Linked DNA regions of Homo sapiens. The protein of the gene in region 1 interacts with the protein of each later gene in a biochemical or structural test. Each region holds a gene or a part of one and is shown in the gene's direction. Other genes may lie near its edges.

Region 1 (3,653 bases):
GGGTGGGTTCTTAATTATAAATATGTCATGACTTTTCCAGATGGAGATTTGGGGGTTCCAGATGTTATATTCCTCTGTCCACTAATTATACCTTTGTCTAATTTATCACGTATTTTCACTGACTGGAGTCTAAATTGATCAGCTATACTGCCACCTGTTTACCCCTGTTGGATCATCCAGTTTATCTTTCACCCCCATTAATGCATAGAATTGAATTCTCTAATGGCACATGTCTCTCCACTGCAGCAGGGAGCTATCTCCTGTACAGTTCTCCATAGCCCTAACTGTCCTCTCCCAGGCTATGTACATCATGGGCTTAAACATTGATAGATGAATAACACAGGGAATTCTCATTAATTCAGTCACTTATGTTCTTGGAATAGTTGACACAGTTATAAGTTAAATCTAATTTTTTTCCATAGAAATATTACCTCAAACGTAGCACACAATGGATACTCAACAAATCTTAGGATCTACTCTATTATTTTCTGTGCTGTTGTGGAAATGACCACAAAAATACCACCTATATTTAACTATAAATTATATATTAGTAACTTCCCTATGTATTTCACAAAGTTGTTATTGAGATCAAATGAGATCAAGGATGAAAAGCGTATGATAAACTGAATCATACTACTAATATATAAATGCAAAGTATTAATATGGCATTATACTTAACTGATGTTCTCAATTTTCTTACAAATGTAGCACTAAATTTAGAGCTAGATAGATCTTTAAAGATCCTTGTATCCAAGCTTCCAATTTGAAGTTGATGACACTGAGGTTTTAGGATGCAAAGGTGACTTCTCAGGCCAAACAGATGGTCAGTATAAAAGCTGAGACTAGACCCCAAGGGCCCTAACTTAGACCTCAGTGCTCCATTCCCTACACTGTGCTGCCAATAATTCTTTCCTTGTTTTGCTACAACAAATAAGAAGTAAAAGAGACACCTTAATTAGGGTCTTGGAATTCAGATGAGCTTCCTTGGCCAGAATTGGACAGGCATCTTTAATAAGACTGTTGAGGAGGCTTGGAGATACTTGACTGCTTTTTGGAAAAATGGATCTTTCCGGTGGCTACCTCAGCCCACTCCTGTGGTGATAGGATTTCTCTTTAGCTCATGGTTGCTGAAGGATGCAGTAAGCAGACCCAGATGGAGACATTCTTCTAAGCCTTGACTGGTATAAAGCAGAGTTTGGTGTAGTGAAAAGTACAGACTTTGAAGACTGACCTGAGCGCGAATCTCAGCTCTCCAGTCAAGCCATTGTGTGACCTTCAGCCTGTTCCTTAACCATTAAGAAGAAGAGAAAAAGAGGCAAGGCAGACATTCCTATAGGCCCTCGTTATTTATACTCCTCTTTTTCTTTAAAAATAGAACTCTATTTTAGCTAGACACATGACTACCCAGATTCAAGATGACATTTTTCAGCCTTCATTTCTACTAAGTGCGTCCCCATGACTAAATCCTAGAGAATGGGATGTAAGTGGCAGTGTTGTGGGATGGCTTCTGGGAACCTTCTTTAAGAAAGTGCTTGCAAGTATCCTTTGCTCTCTTCTTCATCCCTTCCTCTATCTTGCCTCCTGGAAACCAAATGCCACTATCAAGGACTATGAGGCAAAGACAAACATGTCAGAACCACCAGGTAGAAAGAGTCTAGGTGTCCAACATTATGGAGTGCTATATCACTCTAGACCACATCCCTAGACATTTATATGAGAGAGAAATACAGTTCAGTCTTGTTGGGAGTTATTATTTTGAGATTTTTGGCACTCACAGCCTAGCAGAAACCAAGAAGGAAAGCTACTAAATTTATTTTGTGATGATAATATAATCTTGATACCAAAAACAGATAGAACAATACAAGCAAAGACAATTATAGGACAATATTGTTTGTATACGTAGATGCTCAAATCCTAAATAAAATATCACCAAACAGACCAGCAATGTATAAAATAAACATCATCTGCTAGTAGAGTTAGTGGTGAATGTACAGGAACGTAATGATAGCCAAACTTTACAAAGTTCATAAATGTAGCTTATTACATTAGCAGAATAAAAGATAAAAGTTCTGCAATGTCAGTAGACACAGAAAAAGTATCTATTAACATTTAACACCTCTCAGGTTAAAAACAAAAATTTTTAACCTCTCAGGTTTTAACCTCTCAGGTTAAAAACAAAAATTTCATTAATCTAGGAATAGAAGGGAACCTCACTTTACCTTGATAAAGGATACAGCAACCATCATTCTTTTTTCATTGTATTTCTTTTAAGTTCTGGGGTACATGTGCAGGATGTGCAGGTTTATTACATAGGTAAATGTGTGCCATGGTAGTTTGCTGCACCTGTCAACCCATCACCTGGGTATTAAACCCAGCATGCACTAGCTCTTTTCCCTAATGCTCTCCACCCCACTACCCTTTCCCAACAGGCCCCAGTGTTGTTCTCCACCCTGTGTCCATGTGTTCCCATTGTTCAGCTCCCACTTATAAGTGGGAACATGGGGTGTTTGGTTTTCTGTTCCTGCAAAACGTAATTCATCACATAAACAGAACTAAAAACAAAAACCACATGACTATCTCAATAGACACAGAAAAGGCCTTCGATAAAATTCAACATCCCTTCATGTTAAAAACTCTAAATAAACTAGGTGTTGAAGGAACATACCTCGAAATAATAAAAGCCATTTATGACAAACCCACAGCCAATATCATACTGAAAAGGCAAAAGCTGGACGCATTCCCCTTGAAAACTGGCACAAGGATGCCCGCTCTCACCACTCTTATTCAACATAATATTGGAAGTTCTGGCCAGGGCAATCAGGCAAGAGAAAGAAATAAAGGGTATTCAAATAGGAAGAGAGGAAGCAACCATCATTCTTTAATGGGGAAAATTTAGAAGCATTCCTAGTGTGGGTTTGGAAAACAGGGCCTTTAGCTTTCATTGAGTGATCAAATGGGTTGGCAACTCAAGGACTGAGAGCACATCTCTGAGGATACCTTGTCACCATAGTTGAAGATGATGATGTGAGTTGTCCTTTTCCCTCCCCTCCCCTTCCCTTCCCTGGGTCATGAGAGTCTTGGCAATCATCAGGTCCATTACTGCCTTTCCATTCCTCATTCATTAGAAGATAATGTCAATCATCTTCTGTTCAAGTTTTTTTTAACTCCTTTGTCAAGCCAGTCATTTCTGCTAGAAACAACGACAGCTACTTTACTGCTTTCTGTGTTTGTAAGACATCTTACAAAGTAGTAGGTAGAGGGGAGACCCATTAAATAGACATTATGGAAATAGTAAAAGCCCTACTATGTATTAAGCATTACTCCAGGCTTTGTACCTGGGGTTACAAAGATGAGTGAGAAGTGCTCTCTACCTCTAAGATACATATGCTGTTGCAAAACGGACTTCATTCTTATGATACATTTCTTGTCTTTGAAACATATACATTGTTAGATAGTAAATGACTAATAAATTCCTAGAATGAATAATCAATTAGCTGGTGCAAAGAATGAGATAGAAGCAGGACTTCTTGAAATGGTGAAGCAATGATAAAATTGAACAAAACTGGACAAAAACCACTGAAGAACCTGGAAGTTAACCAGAAGCACACAACAAAAGGTGAAGGGTTTTGTTTATTTGTTTTGTTTTGTTTTGT
Region 2 (3,753 bases), on another chromosome or scaffold:
AGGCCCTTATCTGGTGGTTGGATCATGATCCCATTTTGCTTGGACATGCTCTCAGGAAGATAAAAACCATGGAGAAACACTAGGCCATTGACAAATGATCTGAGACAACTTTAGAAAACAATGTAGGATGAATGGAAAGAGAAAGAAAGGAAAGAAAGAAGAAAAAGAAAGAAGGAAAGAAAGAAAGAGAAAGGAAGGAAGGAAAGAAGGAAGGAAAAGAAGGAAGGAAGGAAGGAATATAGTGTTATAAATACTGCACTCAACATTTTCCAAATTCTTGCCATTATTTTTCAAAAGTTTAATAGTTTGCAGAAATAGATACTCAAGCCAAAGTCTGTTTTAGAGAAACTTTCCATGGAAAGTCAGAATTTCTACCACTTCCTTTTCTATCCACATTTCCAGTGCAGAAGAAACTGAGAAACAGAGCTTTTTGAAGAGAGGACAGGGCCATAGCAACAAGGACCTTCTTGGGGGATTAATGGGAGGTCAGTAGAATTAATAACCCTCCTTGGATGAGTGCTACTGTTTTCACATGGCTTCAGATGCTATCAACCTCAAAGAAATGATCTCAACAGAGAAGCTTATTCTCTCCCAACTTCTACGGTAAAATCCAGGAGTATTTTCTCTGGGGATCTGCCCACAGGACAAAGTCCATAAAAGCAAGTCCTGTCTGGACCATGTGGTTATCTGAAGCATTAGCCATCACCAGCACAACAAACGGGGCAGGGCTTTCCAAGGTGGGGCTGGTCAGAAGGGAATCTTTGATAAGAGGCCCACAGGCAGGGAAAGCGAAATAGGGTTGATGAGACCAGGGGAGACCTAAAAAAAAGGCAGCTTTGTGTCTTCTAGCTCCAAATATACCTGCCTTTTAGCTCACACACTGTCCTGGAGTTCTCAGACCTTTAGGGGCCCTAACACAGTTCAGTTCATACAGGGGTTCAAAAGGGACAGTGGCCCATTTGGGAGACCTTTAGGATCAATGGGAATCAATTCCATTGTTTTGCCTCAGAGTAAAGTTTCTGGCTCGGGGACAATTATAAGTTGCAAAAAGGATAGAGGCATATCCCAAGTCTTCCTTCATTCCACAAATAATTACAAACAACCTACTGTGTGCCAGGCACTATTCTTAGCACTGGAAATACACTAGTGAAGAAGCAGATGAGGACCCTGTTTATTGTTTCTCTCCAAGAAATTCTCCAAGAATATTGTTTCTTGGAGAGAAATAATAAATAAACAAGACAATTTCTGAAAGCAATAAGTGCAATCAAGATAATTAAAGGATGCTAAAGTGTGACTTGTGGGGATTGGGAGAGAGATGCACAGACAATATTAAAGAGGAGGCATTCGAGCTTTGTTGTGAACACCGGAAGTAACATGCCGAGCGCCTGGGGGATGGAAACTCCTATAGCACCCCACAGGCTAACAGCAAGCAGGACAAGACAAAAAGGGCAGGTGGGACATGGTAGAGATGGACCCTACCCAGGAAACAGCTCCATCAGCATCTTAGCCTGCCCCACTCTAGCCACACATACCCACGTGTGCTCCTGAGTTCAGTGTGCCCACCTCACTCCCACACCCTCACATAGACTTGGCAAGAGTAAGGAGGGAACTCCATAGAGACATTTTACCTATCTCAGGGGAGCAGCCACAAAGAAGCAAGTCTTGTAAAAGGTCTTTTGCAAAGGAGAGTGAACCCAGCAATGAGAGATCCTTAACAGCTAGTGCCCATTAGGGGGCTAAACCTAAAGCCTGGGTGGTGATGGCTCAAACGCTAATGAGTCAGTGAATCCTTACCGACCCCCTGGCCTTTATAATCTGAGGCAACTTTGGCTGCAGCCCGGGAATGTGCAGGGCACTAGGGAATACAAGGCCTTCTTCCCTGGTTGTCTTGTAATAAAACAGCCATGGGGTTGTCCCTCCAGTCCGAGAGACTGTGATGAGGCCTACATAGCAGCGATGTGGTCAGGTAAAAATCAGGAACCCACTGAAATCTTGGGCAAGCCACCCTGCCTGCTTGTGCCTCGGTTCTCTCATATGTCATATATAGGAGGTGAGGACTCCAGCTCCACCTGCCCCAGGTGGGTGTGGTGATGATGAGGAAAGACAAGAGGCTTGCAAGGACCCTGAAGAGGTCGGAGCATCATACAGATTCCTTTATTAGCCCACATTCTGATGTTCCCTGGTGAGACTTGCCCCAAGCAATTGCTAGTAAATGGGGGTTAATTTCTTCTCCACCTCCCTACTGAACAAAAAAAGAAATGCCAGACTTACTAGGAGAATCGAGTTGCTTTGAGTTTCTTTTGTTTTGTTTTGTTTTGTTTTGTTTTAAGGCTCCCCTTACACACCCTCCTTTAAGCTTTGGGTTTTCTCTCTTATAGTTTGTTGACACATGCTAAAAATGTCTTTGGAGAGAACTTCTGCCTGATAAACACCCAATTCTAGACTGTGGGTGGATTTTCGAGCTGACGGTGGTCAATTCCTTTCATTAAGCAGTGATCTGATTTCTCCACATGGCCATTCTGCCTTCTTGGGGGCAGAGTAGATGGGCAGCAGTTCACCTTTTCAGAGAAAGAGGTCTTCTAGCCACCTGGGCTGCTACTGAATGGTTTTCTCCAGGACGCTCTACCTAATGATTATTTCTATAACATTAAGCATGGTAATAAGTAGCTTCCAATTCAATTCATCCTAAAGCCAAAGAAAATACAGCAACACACACACACACACACACACACACACACACACACACACACACACACCACTTTATGGCAATTCTTAACTGACATTCAATGACTTACTTCTTTTCTTAGAAAATTTCCACCACATTTCTATCCCCAAGCCAACATACAATGTGAAATGAAAGCCAGTGCGTGGAGTGCAGCTGCTAAAAATTTTCAGCACAGGGCTCTTTCTGACTCTGCTCATGAGATGGTATCAGCCACCCAATGACTGGCGTATCTTGGTCCTGTGTCTTTCTTCTTACGCTGTGTTAATGTGTTTACTTTCCATTTGGCAGAGAGACAAGAGAGACACCTCCAACTTCGACAAAGAGTTCACCAGACAGCCTGTGGAACTGACCCCCACTGATAAACTCTTCATCATGAACTTGGACCAAAATGAATTTGCTGGCTTCTCTTATACTAACCCAGAGTTTGTCATTAATGTGTAGGTGAATGCAAACTCCATCGTTGAGCCTGGGGTGTAAGACTTCAAGCCAAGCGTATGTATCAATTCTAGTCTTCCAGGATTCACGGTGCACATGCTGGCATTCAACATGTGGAAAGCTTGTCTTAGAGGGCTTTTCTTTGTATGTGTAGCTTGCTAGTTTGTTTTCTACATTTGAAAATGTTTAGTTTAGAATAAGCGCATTATCCAATTATAGAGGTACAATTTTCCAAACTTCCAGAAACTCATCAAATGAACAGACAATGTCAAAACTACTGTGTCTGATACCAAAATGCTTCAGTATTTGTAATTTTTCAAGTCAGAAGCTGATGTTCCTGGTAAAAGTTTTTACAGTTATTCTATAATATCTTCTTTGAATGCTAAGCATGAGCGATATTTTTAAAAATTGTGAGTAAGCTTTGCAGTTACTGTGAACTATTGTCTCTTGGAGGAAGTTTTTTGTTTAAGAATTGATATGATTAAACTGAATTAATATATGCAAGCTCTTGTTTATATGTCTTTTCTTAAATAGACTATGTTACAGAGGTTACAGACTGAAGATCCAGTTTGTAGCCATTAGATAAGCTTAAT

Evidence for each region. Proteins that work in one complex are often made in the same cells at the same time.
Region 2: of the proteins of CASR (region 1) and PRKCB, one has a biochemical effect on the other in vitro, tested with the Homo sapiens proteins (one study listed by BioGRID).

What each region holds. Positions count from the first base shown.
Region 1 is NC_000003.12:122,277,544-122,281,196, forward strand, and holds part of CASR (extracellular calcium-sensing receptor isoform 2 precursor), read left to right. Parts: intron 1-3,653. UniProt on the Homo sapiens protein: G-protein-coupled receptor that senses changes in the extracellular concentration of calcium ions and plays a key role in maintaining calcium homeostasis.
Region 2 is NC_000016.10:24,216,948-24,220,700, forward strand, and holds the end of PRKCB (protein kinase C beta type), read left to right. Parts: 3' UTR 1-3,013; coding exon of another isoform or gene 3,014-3,166; 3' UTR 3,167-3,664; downstream 3,665-3,753. UniProt on the Homo sapiens protein: Calcium-activated, phospholipid- and diacylglycerol (DAG)-dependent serine/threonine-protein kinase involved in various cellular processes such as regulation of the B-cell receptor (BCR) signalosome, oxidative stress-induced apoptosis, androgen receptor-dependent transcription regulation, insulin signaling and endothelial cells proliferation.